Regions from separate parts of the Homo sapiens genome. Here region 1 is linked to region 2. The links come from fine-mapping of genetic effects on gene expression. Tissue or cell type: transverse colon. Region 2 holds a variant in brackets; the other region holds the start of a gene. All regions are shown on one strand. Distances are between the middles of the regions.

Evidence for each region. PIP is the estimated chance that this variant, and not a neighbour inherited with it, causes the effect.
Region 1: FADS6 starts here. The variant in region 2 is fine-mapped to the expression of FADS6 in transverse colon (GTEx, PIP 0.99).

Annotation. Positions count from the first base shown.
Region 1 is chr17:74,890,355-74,898,409 of GRCh38, reverse strand. FADS6 (fatty acid desaturase 6) reads left to right here and starts at 4,777. Exons shown (of 6, transcript NM_178128.6): 1 at 4,777-5,058; 2 at 5,721-5,887. The coding sequence starts at 4,815.
Region 2 is chr17:74,741,740-74,749,799 of GRCh38, reverse strand. It overlaps RAB37 (RAB37, member RAS oncogene family), which reads right to left. Exons shown (of 9, transcript NM_001006638.3): 3 at 7,505-7,546; 4 at 6,605-6,671; 5 at 6,460-6,512; 6 at 5,427-5,492; 7 at 4,871-4,927; 8 at 4,716-4,792; 9 at 2,465-4,494. The coding sequence ends at 4,389. NHERF1 (NHERF family PDZ scaffold protein 1) reads right to left here and starts at 1,172. Exons shown (of 6, transcript NM_004252.5): 1 at 513-1,172. The coding sequence starts at 953. It overlaps SLC9A3R1-AS1 (SLC9A3R1 antisense RNA 1), which reads left to right. Exons shown (of 3, transcript NR_187307.1): 1 at 1-737; 2 at 873-1,227; 3 at 2,257-4,200. It overlaps MIR3615 (microRNA 3615), which reads right to left and starts at 1,187; the gene lies at 1,101-1,187. RefSeq lists enhancers at 109-734, 2,023-2,618, 7,099-7,248 and a silencer at 939-1,628. The variant A/TGCCCA (reference allele first, on the strand shown) is at 4,707.

The sequences.
Region 1 (8,055 bases), 150 kb before region 2:
AGATGACAGAGAGGGATAGGGAGGAGTTGAGGGGTGTCACTCAGACTCTGGGGGCAGCTGGCAGGGGTAGGTTGGCCGCTCTACCACCCACCCACACTCATGCCGACCCCATGGCCAAGGGAACCCACAGGCCAGCCCCGCCCTGCCTTCCCCCGCTCCACTGTCCTGGGTTTAGGGGTGATTTTACCTTCTGATTTATACCTCTACAAAAACCAATTACCAACTGGGCAAGGTAGCTCACGCCTGTAATCTCAGCACTTTGGGAGGCCGAGGTGGGCAAATCATTTGAGGTCAGGAGTTTGAGGCCAGCCTGGCCATCATGGTGAAATCCCATCTCTAATAGAAATACAAAAAAGTTAGCTGGGTGTGGTGGCACATGCCTGTAATCCCAGCTGCTGAGGGAGGCTGAGGCAGGAGAATCACTTGAACCTGGGAGATGGAGGTTGCAGTGAGCCGAGATTGCACCACTGCACTCCAGCCTGGGTGACAGAATGAGCCTCCATCTCAAAATAAATAAAGAAAATAAAGAAAAGTGATTACCATTTGAAAATATAAAATTGTTGTAATTAAAATATAACACCTAGACAGGAAAATGCACATACTCTAACAGTATAGCATGATGAAGTGTTACAAACTGAACACTCAAGGGTAACTAGAACCCAGTTTAAGAAACAAAACATTTATCAGCCTCTGGAGAACCCCCTCATGCCCCCTTCTAGTCACTATCCCTAATCAGTTAAAGCCATCCTAACTTCTAATGCCATAGATTCATTTTGTCTGTTTTTGAACTTTATACACATGGGATCATCTGATCGGTGTTTTGTGTCTGGTTTCCATTTGTTCGGCATTGGATTTGGGCTGTGTGGTAATCCCCCCATCGCCGTTTATTGATTTATTCCACTGCTGGCAGAAAATTGCATTGTGCCCAGTTGTTATCTTTTGAGTAGTGCTGCTATGAATATTTGTGTATGTTTCTTTGCTTTTCTGTTGAGTATATATCTAGGATATGCATGTGTTCAACTTAAATAAAACTCTTTTCTTTTTTCTTTTCTTTTTTTTTTTTTTTGAAACGGAGTCTCACTCTGGCACCCAGGCTGGAGTACAGTGGTGCGATCTCAGCTCACTGCAACCTCCACCTCCCGGGTTCAAGCGATTCTCCTGCCTCAGCCTCCAGAGTAGCCGGGATTACAGGCACATGCCACCATACCCAGCTAATTTTTGTATTGTTAGTAGAGATGGGGTTTCCCCATGTTGGCCAGGTTGGTCTTGAACTCCTGACCTCAGGTGATCTGCTTGCCTCGGCCTCCCAAAGTGCTGGGATTACGGGCGTGAGCCACCATGCCCAGCCTTCCTTGTCTATTTAATTTTGGCCATTCTAGTGGGTCTGCAGGGTTATCTTATTGGTGTTCAAATTAGCATTTCCCTAAAAACTAATGATGGGGAGCATCTTTTCACATGCTTCTTGGCCATTTGCATATCTTCTTTGGTAAACTGTCTATTCAATTCTTCCTTATTTTGTTACCCCCATCATCATTTCCACAGTCCCTCCCTCTGCTATCTGCACCCTTAGCACCTTTATGTTTGGGGGACTGGAACGTCTCTAAACTGGTCCCCCTCACTCCGGTCCCCCTCACTCCAGTGGCTACTCCATTGTGCCAGACAAACCTTCCTGAACACAGCATTGCACAAGTCACTCCACTGCCCTGAAACTTCCTATGGCTCCCATGCCTGTGAGGACAAACCTCAGCTTCTCAGTCTGCCTTTGTGGCACTCCAGCCCGTGGTCCCAGCCTTTCTTTCCTGCCTTCCCTTGCCTTTCCCACCAATCTCTCAAACTCTACTCCTGGCCCATGCCTTGAGGACCCAGAATACTTGGTTCTCTTCCTTCTCTCTGAGGTTTAAGTAGTCTGTTTGCTGTTATTGTCATTGTTGTTTTAAGACAAGGTCTTGCTCTGTCGTGCAGGCTGGAATGCAATCATCGCTCACTGCAGCCTCCAACTCCTGGGCTCAAGCGATCCTTGAACCTCAGCCTTCCAGAGTGTTGGGATTATAGTTGTGAGCCACCATGCTAAGTCTGTTCTAAATCAAGTCTGCCTCTCTCTTGGGAGGCTACCAGCCAGCCCTACCCCACAGGGATCCCTGTTCCTCTGAGCTCCTCTGAAACATGTTCTTTCCTCTGGCGCTCAGCATTTACCTCTGTCCAGTACCACTTGGATGTCCAGGAGGGAGCCAGGGCCTGGAGAGGAGCTTCTTGGTGCCAGGAAGTTCCTGGCATATATGATAAAAATGATAACATCTCCTTATAAGCTTAAAATATGGGATATTAATATCACATATGCTTTTACAAATTATACATATCCCCTCCTTGAAAATTGTAGTATGCTAGAGAGGGAGGGATTTGACGGTAGAGTGGGAAAGGGAGGGAGGAGGGCGACTCTTCCTTATCTGTCTTAAGAATCTCTTAAGATGGTGGCTCATGCCTATAATCTCAGCACTTTGGGAAGCCGAGGCGGGTGGATCACGAGGTCAGGATATTGAGACCATCCTGGCTGACATAGTGAAACCCTGTCTCTACTAAAAATACAAAAATTAGCTGGGTGTGGTGGTGCGTGCCTGTAATCCCAGCTACTCGGGAGGCTGAGGCAGGAGAATCACTTGAACCAGGGAGTTGGAGGTTGCAGTGAGTGGAGATCGCGCCACTGCACTCCAGCCTAGTGATAGAGCGAGGCTCTGTCTCAAAAAAAAAAAAAAAAGAAAATCTCTCATGGAAACCATTGCATTTGGAGAAGCTCCTGGATTCAGCTCTAATTCTGCCATTTACTAACTGTGGAGTGCTGGGCGGATCAGTTCATCTCTTGGGGCCTCCGTTGATTAAATGAAGATGAGGCCATCCTATTTTTTTTTTTTTTTTTGTAGATGGAGTTTTGCTCTTGTCCCCCAAGCTGGAGTGCAATGGTGCGAACTTGGCTCACTGCAACCTCTGCCTCCTGGTTTCAAGCGAGTCTTCTGCCTCAGTCTCCCGAATAGCTTGTATTACAGGCTCCTGCCACCACGTCCAGCTAATTTTTGTATTTTCAGTAGAGCCGGGGTTTCACCATGTTGGCCAGGCAGGTCTCGAACTCCTGACCTCAAGTGATCTGCCTGTCTTGGCCTCCCAAAGTGCTGGGATTACAGGTGTGAGCCACCGCGCCTGGCCTTAGATGATGCCATCCTTGAGGGATGTGGGGAATCCACAAAACCTCATCAGTATGTGAAAGTCAATGATAACCTGCGGGGCAGGTATATGCGCACGTGCACTTGGTGAGAATTGGTTTATTAAATTGTCAGTCCCTTAGAATACTGAGCTGGTAAATAAATCTTATTCTTTGATAAAGAATTAAAGGAATAAGCTCATACGAATTCATGATTAGCCAGGCTTAGTGGTCCCCGTGTGTGCCTGTAGTCCCAAGCTACTCAGGAGGCTGAGGGGGAGGATCACTTGAGCCTAGGAAATCGAGGCTGCAGTGAGCTGTGATTGTGCCACTGCACTCCAGCCTGAGTGATAGAGCGAGACCCTGTTTCTAAACAAAGAGAGAAAAAAAAGAATTCCTGAAGGAAAACACCAGGAAGGAGTCAAAAGGAATCAATGTCATTAGGATCCCTGACTGTCTCTCCCTTACCCCACCCACCCAACTTCTCTTTCCTAGGGGTCTCCTGCTAAAGATGCCACTGTCCTCACCATACCAGATCCCTTAAGTCATGAAACTGGGAGTAAGTAAAACAAAAAAGAAAAGAGAAAGGGTATTCAGAAGCAGGGAAGAGGAGTTTGTAGAGGACAGAGGCTTATCCCCTGAGGACCAAGGCCATCTCCAGCAGTGCGGGGTGGGGGCCTGGGCTGATGGGAAGGGGATGTGACAGGTGTGGCTCCCACATCTCAGAGGGCTTGGCTGAGGCCCTGGCCCTGGGTTCAGGCCTGGGCGCTCTTGAGGGAGTGGAATGGCAGCGGGACCCGGCTGGTCTGCCTGCCCACCCAGAATGATGACCTCCGGATGTGTATTCCCTGTAGCTACCCGTCTCACCCAAAACATTATTGGGCTGAAGAGCCAGCTCCCCTGGGTCACCTCTGCTGAAGCCATACTCAGAGGGGACCTCTCACTCCTTGACCCACGGGGAGGGGGAGTGGGGAGTCCTTGAACTTTCTGCCCTAGGAATTCCCAGATGTTTCTGTGCCAAGCATTGCCCTAGGTACTGAAGACAGAGCTTGGGCAAAACGAGGACGTCTCTACGGCACTGAGGGTCCGTCTGTTGGCAGAGACAGACGACAGCATGTGTCATGTGTGTCACGTACGAGGGGAGCTGCTCAGTGCCACTACGAATAGTCAGGGTCGAGGGAAGAGAATGCTCGGACAGATCTCAGGGACCGAGGGAACTCAGGGAGTTATTTGAGGTCGGAGGTCAGGGAAGGCCCTCGGGGCGGGGCGGGGGTGGGGGGTGTCTCCACTGGGGTCTCCGTGCCCCTGACGCCTCCGTCCCTACTACCTGGGCTGGGTCTCACCGCAGGGTCGCCTCCCCGCCTAGCCACTCTCAGCTCATCGGCCTGGCTCCTCCCTCCGCGGCGGTTCTGATGCCGCCTGCCAGGGTCGCGCGCCTGAGCCGGGCCTGGGTCGCCAGCGCCCGCAGCAGAGGAGCCAGGGTGTCTCGCACCTTGACCCCGGGGGCGGGTGTCCCCAGGCGGCGCGTGACTCCGCCCCGGCCCGCCCCGCCTCGCCTGCACCGCAGACACACGCCCCAGTCCTCCAGTCCTCCGTGCGCGTCGGGCCCGAGCCCACAGAGTCCATGGAACCCACGGAGCCGATGGAACCTACGGAGCCCATGGAACCTACGGAGCCCATGGAACCTACGGAGCCCATGGAACCTACGGAGCCCATGGAACCGGCGCGGAGCGCGCACCGTGGGGGCGAGGCGCTGCTGCGGGAGCTGGAGGTGCTGGTGCAGGACGTGGTGAGGACGAGCTCCTGGTGGGAGCGCCACGGCGTGGACTGCGCCATCCTCGCGCTCAGCCTCTTCGCCTTGCCGGCAGGTGAGGAACGCGGGGACCCGGCGTCCCGGCCGGGCTGCGGGTGGGGGCGGGGTGCGGCGGAGGTGGCGGCGCGGGGTCTGCAACAGCAGCCGTGGGAGTGCAGCCTGCGGAGTGGACTGGCGGCGGCAGGGAGGCGGAGGTGGTCGGGGCCCCGCACCCAAGGATGGAGGGTCACACCCCGAACCTGAGAGTCTGGACTGGGGTGTTCTGCCCTGTGTACCCTAGGAGGGGGCGCAGGAGGGTGGTGGAAGGGAAAGTTGAGAGGAGCGGGGGAGTGGCCGGGAGTGATGAGGTGCCCCCCCACCCCCGGGAAGGGAGACGGTGTTCTTTGGGGACCTAGGTGAGTGGGGAGGGGGTGGGAGTTTCCCCTGGACCCTTCCTGGTCTGGAACACCCATGGTACCTGAGGCCCCAACATTGCTTTGGCTGGGGGCCCAGGACCACGCACTGGAGAGTCAGGACCAGGCACGGGAGAGTCAGGACCGCTGGAGGGGCAGTCCTGGTTCCCCTCAGGCCACAGTGGGACCTGCCTCACTCCGGCCAGTGGCAGCCCCCAGAGCCTAGCCCACTTTAGCCTGGGCTCCCAGGGTAAGGGTTGAGGTATTTGGGCCCAGATCACCCAGAGCTAGAGAAAGACCCGTCTTCTTCCTCCTCTCCACGCAGGCTTCCTGTGCCTGCGCTGGGAGAATGCCCTGGTCTTTGCATCCGGCATCACCATCTTGGGTGTGTGCCACTACACACTCACTGTCAAGGGCAGCCACCTGGCCACTCATGGGGCCCTCACCGAGTCCAAACGCTGGAGCAAGATCTGGCTGCTTTTCTTTGTGGAGGTGAGCCTGGGAGAAGGAGGATGCAGGCAGCTGCTGGGACCGTGTGGCAGCCTCATTCTTCTGTTCGAGCATGCGGGTGTGTCCAGCTGTGCATGTGCCCACGGGGGCAGGCCGCTGCAGCTGATGGTATGCCGGTCCACTGGTGCAGTATGCACTACAGCGTGTCTGAGGACTTCTCCAAGCCCTTGAGCGGGTCTTTGCACCCCATGGGTAGAGAGTTGTAGGATGAGTATGCCGCTGTCTTGGCCCACAGTTACAACCAGTGGGGCCTCCAGATTTTGCAGTCAGGGTTTAAAATGTGACCCACAGACAGAAAGGGAGGGGGAGGAGGGGCCCAGTGTCCACAAGGGGCAGCGTCCTTACTCCGGATGATGCTCCTCTGATGCCTGGCCATGGCCTAGCCTTCCTGAGAAGCCCCCTGCTCCCCGGGGTCAGCTCCAGGAAGTACCCACCTCACCTGACCCTTGCCCTCCCTTCTTCCACCCCTTCCCAGTTCGACCTTGGCCTTCTTACCTTCGGGCACGCCCAGGAAGGCAAAAGTTTCGACCAGCTTGTCTTTCTCTCTTGACTGGTCTCCAGGCCTCCCCAGTTCCTCTGCTGAACTTGCTCCCTCCTCCTTTCCAGGGGGACCGTCGCCTGGTCACCCAGGTGATGGTTCCCCTAAATAAATGAATGGCCACACCTTATGAATAAATAGGAAAGCTGGGACCAGAAACAGTTCTTTTCTGGAAGGACTGGTCGTTGTGACCAATTAACTCAATTATTAAGTTTTTATAAAGTTATATAACTTTATATAACTGTCTACACACACATATATCATCACTATCCACTCAGCTGAGTGGATGAAGCATTTCTCACCTAGCACTATCCCCTGCTTCTTCCCCTCCCCTGCCCCTCTCACCAGCACACACATCAAAGTGCTGAAGACAAGAGGAACTGACAGGCTTCTGATCCTCAGGGTCAATTTCAAGACAATTCCTTTCCCACGGAGCCCTGAGCATTAGTCCCGGCCAGACTCTAAGACACGGGCCAGGCTCTGGAGTCTGGGTCAGCTGCCCGCCAAGTTTGTAATCCACAGAGAGGCAAGGGAGACATTGGGCTGTGCTGGTGACATGGACTGTGTCATAATGCTGGGTCACAGGGGCAGAATGAGCTATGTTTGGATTTTTAAAAAAGCTGTACTGAGGCTGCGCGCGGTGGCTCACACCTGTAATCCCAGCACTTTGGGAGGCCGAGGCAGGTGGATCGCCTGAGGTCAGGAGTTTGAGACCAGCATGACCAACGTGGTGAAACCTGATCTCTACTAAAAGTACAAAAATTAGCCGGGCATGGTGGCACGCACCTGTAATCCCAGCTACTCAGGAGGCTGAGACAGATCAAGACTCTGTCTCAAAAAAAAAAAAAAAAAAATCAAAAAGAAAAAAGCTGTACTGAGTACCAGGAGCCTAGAGGCAGCTGAGGATGAGGAGCAGGTACTGAGGCTTTGGGACTGCTTGGCTGCAAGGCATTTATTGCACAGAGGTAACCTAGTGGTTCTCAAACTTCGGTGTGTAGCAGAATGATCTGGAGGCCCAGGCTTGCTGGAGAAGAGGACTCGGGCCACTGTGTTTTTACCAAGTTCCACAGGTGAATCTGATACCCACCAAAGTGTTACACCCACACCATAGCTATCATGTGTGCCAAATGAATGCAGGAGGCCAAGGACGCCTCCTCTGAGAAGCCTTCCTGGGCTTCTCTACTGGAGCGCTCCACCGGAAACCCAGCACGCTTGAGATACCCAGATAGCCTCAGTGCTGCATTCTGCTTGTGAATGCTGTCTTGTCCCCGTAAGCCCAGTGGCTTCATCTTTGCCTCTTTGACTCTTCAGCTCCTGGCACAGACTTGAGCTCTTGGCAATATTCTTCCATCAATATTTGCTGACGATGACCCTGCAGTTGTCTAGGGAACCAGGTTCAGGCCTGCAAGCCCCCTCGAAGCTGGGGAGGAAAGGCTTGGCTCCCGCTTCATGTCGTGACACCTGCCTGGTGGACTGCAGTGGGCTGAGGAACAGGGCCCGAGTAGTTTATTACTCAAGCCTCCGACTGACCTACGTGGGATGCGTCTTGATTTTTTCATCCCACAGGTGCCCTCCAGCTACCCTCTGGGGAGGGTCCAGTTCCAAGTGTGGG
Region 2 (8,060 bases):
GAGGGCCTCCTCGCGCCGGGGCTCCACACAGGAGGAGTAATGCTATTCCTCTAGCTTTTGAAGTAGGAGTGGCGGGCGAAGCTGGCACCTCTGGGGCGGAGAGCCCTTTCTCCCCGGCCCATCTGCGGACTGGGGTGAACGAGGAGAGGGCACCAGGGAAGGAGCAGGATTGGGGGATTCCGAGGAACGGGAGCAGACACCCACAGACCCGAGGGAAGGGGGCTGGGTTCCCCTGCGCCGCCCTCCCAAAGGCCAGGGAACAAGAGGTGCAGGCGGCAAAGGCGCTCAAGCTCCCAGCACAGCCTGGGAAGGAGAGGAGGTCGCGGGACGCAGCCCCAGGCCTGCCTAGGATGTGTCAGGGCGCCTGGTCGGCGGGCGGAAGCGGTCTCCCCCTCGCAGCTCGAGTTTCAGAAAAACGACGGCGGGCGCGGGGCTGGACGGCCGGGGCACCTGGGTCTCTCCGGATCCTCCTCCCACTCCATGCCAGCCTGCGCGGCTTGGGCCCCGCTTACCTGCTCCGGGTGGCTCTTGTCGGCCTCGCGAGGCTCATTTTCGTTGCCAGCCCCCTGCACCTCGGCGGCGGCCGGCGGCTCGGCCTGCCCCGGCGCTTCCTGGGCGCGCAGCAGCTCCTCTCGGACCTGGACGCCGAGCTTCTGCAGCTGCTCGTCCGTCTCGGGGTCGACCACCAGCAGGCGCACGGCGTTGAGTGCGGCGCGGATGCGGCTCACCACCTGCTGGTGGGTCTCCTTCTCCACGTTTTCGCCGTTCACCTCCACCAGCCGGTCCCCCGCCAGCAGCCCCGCCTTCTCGGCCGGCGAGCCGGGCTCCACCAGCCGGATGTACTGGCCCAACTTGCCCTTCTCCCCGTGCAGGTGGAAGCCGTAGCCGTTCGGACCCTTCTCCAGGCAGCAGAGCCGGGGCAGGGGCGCCCCGGCCGCTGCGTCCGCGCTCATCTCGCCCTGCGACGGGTCAGCGGCGCGACTTGGGGTTCCGATGGGGACGGGACGGGACGGCCCAGCCCTTCTTCCCGTCCAGCGAACCGGGAGCGCAGCAGAGAAGCCCTGAGCCGCCGGACGGGCCAAGCAAGCAGGTGTCCCAGGAACCGTCGGCCGCCGCGAGCCGCGAGGAGCCGAGAGAGGACCACAGACCAATCCCCGCCCCGCGCGGCGTCTGAGCGTCCCAGAGTCCGCCCCGGCTCCTTACCCCGGGGGCGGGGCCGCGCTGAGGGTGGGGACCTCCGCGGGCCAATAGGGGGCTGCAGGCCTGGGCGCTCCGGCCGGGTGAACGGCGCCGGCCATTGGGAACGCGCGGGGCGGGGCCTGCGCTCGGCGCGGCGCCCCGCGGCGGGCGAAGACTAGCGCTCAGGAAGTGGAAGTGTTTGTTACCGAGCGGCCGGCGCTGGGGTGGCAGGGGCGGGGCTCGCCGAATTCCCGGTTCTGGGCGGGTGGGCCCGCCGGCTCCGGCCTGGTTTCCCCTACCTGTGGCGGGGAGTGAGGAAAGCCGGCCCTCGGGTAAAGGACCCTAACTTTTTTTTTTTTTTTTGAGACGGAGTCTCGCTCTGTCGCCCAGGCTGGACTGCCGTGGCGCGATCTCGGATCACTGCAACCTCCGCCTCCCGGGTTCAAGCGATTCCCCTGCCTCAGCCTCCCGAGCAGCTGGGGTTACAGGCGCGCACCACCACGCCCCGCTAATTTTTGTATTTTTAGTAGAGACGAAATTTCGCCATGTTGGCCAGGATGGTTTCAAACTCCTGACCTCAGGTGATCCGCCCTGGGATTACAGACGTGAGCCACCGCACCTGGCCAACGTTTTAACAGCCTTTAGCCAAAGCCTGGGTGCAGCTCCAGTTGAGAGGGAGCGGCTGTTGCCGGGGCAACTGCTCCCGCTCGGGGCAGCGAGGGCCGGTCAGTCTCGAGAATTAAGACGGAGGGCCTCCTCGGACCCTACAGAGTTGTTTGAATAACATTTTTCCGTTTGTGGGAACCCTAACCCTAATCCACTTTGTGCTGTCCCAGGACTCGCATAGAGGAGTGCAGGTTCTGATCCCTGCTGGGAAGGTGAGGGCTCCGCGGAGAGCCTGGGACCTCGAGGGGCAGCCCGCTGAAGACAGGCCATCTAGGGCAATAGCGTGGGCTTTGGCAGCAGCGTTTGGCTAGGGAGGTGGGGTGGGGAGAGGCAGGACAGACTCAGGTAATCAACCTCTGGGTACACGCCACAGGGAAAGGAGCCTTGGTTTTTTTTTTTTTTTTCCAACAGAAAAATGATTAGGACTGTAAAGCCTTCTAGCTCCCTCTTGCCAAAGAGAGGCTGGTCACAGAGGCGGGAGACAGTCTGTTGAGCGGGGAGCTGACCATCTGAGGACAGACACTGAGGAAGGAGGATGGAATGATTTTGGCAGTGAATGACAATTCCTTCAACAAGACCCCCCCCCCCCACTCACTTCAAAGAAACAGTGGACAGGATGTGCTTTCCAAAATACTGCAGTTTAATTCTGAAAAACTCAAATGCAAGAGGCCCAGAGCTGTCTATGGGATTGGATCTCCTGCAACCTGCCTTGGGCCCCAGAAGAGACTGGCAATGTCAGCCTCCTCCCTGCTCTGCCTGAGGGAGGCCACGGAGAACTTCCTTATCGGGCCCAAACTGGAGCCGCTGACTGCTCAGAGCAAGATTTCTGCCTTGAAAGCAAATGCAGTAGCCTCAGAAATGTGCAGCGCATACTTCTTCCTCCCCCTCTCCCCCTCCAGGCCGGCAGAGCTGCAGTAAAGATGCCTGCAGGTCATGACCTCATGTTTCCTGTCCACTTCCCATGGCAGGGATCGGAGCTTTGGGAGATATGTGACCAAGGAGGACACATGAACTTGCTACCCCTCTCTCTACCCCAGACATACCCACATGACTTTGTTTTACTCATATTGCATTGGTTTAACTCGGAAATGGGTGACCTCCCACCACCTAACCTGACTCAGTAGGAGGGGAGGTAAAGCAGTTTAGGCCCTGGTATCTGTTTGAGAAGTTAAAGGAAAGGGCATGGGTGGTCAGGGAGGAGGCAGAGCTTGGGGTCAAAGGGATACATGTCAGGGGAGGTTTGCTTAATCTTGTCTCCCACCAGCTCCAGGAGCCAGGGATTTCTCTTTTTTTTCACAACACATTCCAAACCTAGGAAAGGGATTTCTCCTTATCTGGCTCTTAACCCAGGAGGGCTAAACACTTCAGCTGCTTGAAGAAATCGCCTGTGGAGCTGCATGCCTGCCAAAGGATTGGGATAAGACACATCTAGCCTGGGCATGGTGCCTTCTGCGTGTAATCCCAGTACTTTGGGAGGCCGAGGCCGGCAGGTTGCTTGAGCTCAGGAATTCAAGACCAGCCTGGGCAACATGGCGAAACCCTGTGTCTACAAAAAATACAAAAATTAGCCAGGTGTGATGGTACACACCTATAGTCCCAGCTACTTCGGCGGCTGAGGTGGGAGGATCGCTTGAGCCCCAGGGAGTGGAGGTTGTAGTGAGCGGAGATTGCACTACTGCACCTCAGCCTGGGCGACAGAACGAGACTCCATTTCAAAAAAATAAAAACAAAACTCTTTTCCTAGTTCTGACCTGAGGTTTTTAGGTGCACAGGCAGGAAGGTAGCTAAGCCAGGGATTCAGGGGGGGGAGGGGCTCCCCCAGGATCTGAAGTCCAGAGAACAGGAGCCTGGAACCAATATTTCCAGGTGCCCCAATGTGCTTGTGTGCTGGAGAAAAGGGGCATGCCTCCAGGGGGGTGTTAGTAAGGCCAGAGATAGCCAGCTAGACCCTACTCTCTGCCCCTTGTCCTCCCCCTCCCATCTCCATATCTCTTATCTTCCCTGAGGCTTTGGTCTTCCTCACAGCACAAGGGCCCACTTATTTGGGAGATGGGGCGAAGATAAGCTCCTGGAGAGCGGGAGACAGTGAAGGCTGGGGTCACCTGAGCCTCTGTCCAGCTGAACTGAGGGTGCGATGGAGTCATTACCTGCCCTCACCCCCAAAGTGCATCTGTGTCCCCTGGGGCTGAGCTGGAGCAACACCACCTTTGTTATGCTTAGGAGGGAGGGCCGGCCCCCCAAGTCCTAGAAAGCAAAAGGGCCACTAGCTCCCAGCCTCGGTTTTTTGGGGATCCAGGCGCCTTTTTTGGTATTAAATTATGTACTATTAAAATAAAAGCTAAGTGTTTTACCCTCCCTGTGGATGCGGGGAGACCGCAGGAACTCAAGTAGGAGTTGGAGTATAGCTCCCTGCTAGGAAGCGGCTGTGCAGTGAGTCCTCCATCTTTCTCCCCATTGGCTCAGCCTCTTGGAATAAGCCAGGCCTGGGAGGGGGAAGGCTGCATCCTGTGTGCCTCCAGAGCCTCCTCTCTGCCCCCTGGGATTCACATGAAGGAGCAGCAGCTGGAGCGCTTCTTCTGGGACTCTACATAGTCTCGGATCTGGAAGCTGGGCTCATCCGCCTGATGCCCGGCCCGGTATTTCAGTTCCCTTGAAGAAGAGACAATGGGCTGGGCTGGGCTGGGCTGGGCTGGGGTGAGGAGCTGAGCCGCCCCCTCCCCTCTCCCAGTGGCCCAGTGCTCCCAGAGCAAATGGACCTCAGCCTGCAGAATGCAGGTGTGTCCAGGGGCTGGGCCAGGGGCCGGGCCCTACTGGATTCCTGGAGTGTGCCGCCCTGCCCCGCACACTTCCCTTCCCTGCCC[A/TGCCCA]GCTCTCACTTGGCGATGGCCAGAAAGGCTAACTCCACATTCATGCCAGTCTTGGCGCTGGTCTCCAGGAAGGGAACACCGTACTCCTGCCCGGGAGAGAGTGTCCTCAGGGCCAGCGTCGGGTTGCCCCCACCCTTCACCCTGTCCCACAGACAATCACTTACCCTGGCCAAGGTCTCTCCGTCTTCGGAACGGATCACTCTTTCGCTGCTCATATCCGCCTGTCAAGCCCAAATGGGTCACTCTGGGGAAGGAGGCCTCCGCCCCAGCGGGCCCATATTTTGCCCCAGAAGCAGGCGTTGCCTGCCCTCTGCTGGTGGCCCAAGGGACTGCAGGCAGGTGTGATTGGCCTGGGGCCAGGGTTTCTGCCCAGTGTAGCTCCCAGCTCTGGGATCTCACCTTTGGTAAAGGGTCTTGGAATAGGACAGCAGTTGGGGCTAACCCTTTGCACTCTTAGCCCCTGACCTGGGACCCTGTTCACTCTGCTCTAATGGGGGCTGAGAACTGGGCACCCCTTGATTTCTCAGGCAACAACTTGGACTTTCCCTGGAAGGGGCAGATGGGATGGGCAGAAGCCTCCAGATATGTCTGACCCCTGAGCTGGAGGCTGCAGAGTCCTTTTCAGGAAGGATGCCTAGATAACTGTTCTTGGGTGGTTATGGGGCCGGCTAGGGCTGAGGAAGTGCAGGGCTGGGCTGACCCTGCCCCGGAGCCACTCACCTTGTTGCCTAGCAGCATGATCACCACGTCCCTCTGGGCATACTCATGAATCTCAGTGAGCCAGGCCTGTGGGAGAGGGCGTGCGAGACTGGCATTCTCTTCCTCCTGCTGCCCCTTTCTTCTTCTGCTCCGTTTGACTATCCTCAGTTACTCACTACCTTGAACACGATACCCTGTGCGTTCTCTCATCTGTACCTTTGTTCTGGCCCATCCAGGCCTGGATGGCCTTCCTTGGTGGCTCAACCCACAATGGCCCCACCCTCACCATTTTATGCTGTGCAACTATCAGTTCTATGGAAGATCCAGATGCATGGAGACCTTATCTCACAAATCAGTTGGCTGTCAGCAGTGATTTCTTGGAGTGTCCTGTTAAAGATTCTAAGACCACATAAGGGTTTCAGTGATCAAAAGTACTGTGATTGATTAGTGATGTCTGCCATGAGCATGGGGTTGGAGGTAGGAGTATGAGTGCCATGGATTTTCCTCTTTCTATATAAACGTTTTATTCTCCTAGTTTGCTTATCAGCAAACTGTCCTTGAGGTCAGGGGATTCATGAAACCTATACAATGTCGTGAACAAAATTGGTGCTTGAATTTATCAAATTTTTGTCTCTATAATAGTTTGGTTGTGAGGATACAACCACTCACTCTGTCTGACTGAGTCACTTTCTTGCAACTTGCCCTGGATGTATGTGTGGACTTTTCTGGTTGTGTTTTTCCCTTGGTCTCTGTGGATAATTATCCAGGGTGGAGTGGGGGCTGTTCTGAACACTTTGTCACGAAACACACTCGTGAATCACAGTGAGGGCTATGCAGGTGGCACAGGGTCACAACAGCCTGCTTGGCCTTCATGCCCACATGGCCACCAAATACAAAGCAGCAGATATGACTTCTGAGTCACAAGTAGGTGTTTTTCAGAAGGCAGGAGGACTCCACGCTCCACCCGCTTTCCACAGGGCAGGAAGCAACCCCAGCCTGCATAGACCTTGCCTTGGCTGCTTATGGGTGGGAGTCAGGGGAAGGGAGGACCTACCCTGATGTTGTCGAAAGAAGATTTGTTGGTGATGTCATACAGCAGAAGCAAGGCTGGAGGGGAGAGGATCACAGAGGGGACTTAGGCAGCAGCACGGATGCTACCAAGGGGCTGGGGTAGGGGTTGGAGGGTGCGAGGGACTCACCCTGAGCATCTCTGTAATAAGCATGGGTGACGCTTCGGAACCGTTCCTGCCCAGCGGTGTCCCAGATCTGGGAAGGGATGGGATGGAGAAATGGTCAGAAGGAGGCAGGTGCAAGGAATGTGCTGGGTGGAGCAGGCCTGCTTTGTTGTATGAGATATCTGTGGGAAGGTGGGGCTGTTTTCTTCTTTAGGTTCTCATGAGCCCCTGAGCATCCAATGACCTGGACAGTAGCAGTTACTGATTTCTCAAGCTCGTTCAAAATCATCTCCTCAGCCGAGCGCGGTGGCTTACACCTGTAATCCCAGCACTTTGGGAGGCCGAGGCAGGCGGATCACGAGGTCAGGAGATCCAGACCATCCTGGCTAACACAGTGAAACCCCGTCTCTACTAAAAATACAAAAAATTAGCCAGGTGTGGTGGCATGCACCTGTAGTCTCAGCTACTCAGGAGGCTGAGGCAGGAGAATCTCTTAAACCTGGGAGGCAGAGGTTGCAGTGAGCCGAGATTGTGCCACTGCACTCCAGCCTGGGCGACAGAGCGAGACTCCATCTCAAAAAAAAAAAGAAAAGAAAAGAAAAAAAAAGAATCTTCTCCTCTCCCCTAGCTCAGGGGTTGGGGATGTCCAATCTCCTAAGAGCAGATAAAGCCCTGGCAACTGGGGAGGAGATGGATGGAGGCTAAGCTTGTCTGAAGGCATTTGGAGCTGCTGTTCATAGATGAGAGGGTGCCTGGGAACTGCTTTTTCTGCAGATGTCAAATAAACAAAAGCCATTTCCTCCCGTGGGCCCCACAGGAAATTGCCCCAGGCGGAGGGCAGGGCTGCAGGCCTCCTGTGGTTCAGGGTGAGAAGGAAGGGCAGGTCCTCCATCCTCCCTCCCCAACTCCAGCCTCTGGTCTCACCTGCAGCTTCACTCTCACGCCATCCACAGTCACCACCTTGTTCTGAAAGAGAAAAAGGCAGAGGATGGGAGGGCAGGAGTCATGTGGCTCCTCAGCTCTGCAGACGTCCTGTCTTGTTCCCTCTCCAGGCCTAGAGTGGGTGCAGTGAGCCCCAGAACCGTCTCCAGCCAGATCATACCATCAGGGCAGCAGGAACCCCATACCCAGACACCTCCACTGTGGAGTCGTCCCTTCTGAGGACTGTAACTGCCTTCTCACAACAGCAGGGCAAGAGGAGCCTGAGAAACATCCTGGCTCTCTCCAGGGATCAGGCAGCCCAGGGCTGGAGGGCTGGTTGCTGCTGGAGGCCCTGCCCTTTTCCCACTTCGGTCTCCCTCTCCTGGAGCCTAGCCTTGGGACTGTGACCGAGCCCCTGGAGATGGGGTGTTTGCCTGCATCCTGGGGACCTGAGGCTACATCTGCAGCAGCACCTTTTCTTTAGCTGCCCACTAATTCTCTAGTGAAGGAAGTGTTCGCTTTCTGCCTGCTTGAAGCTGTAGAGCCCCACCTGCCAGGG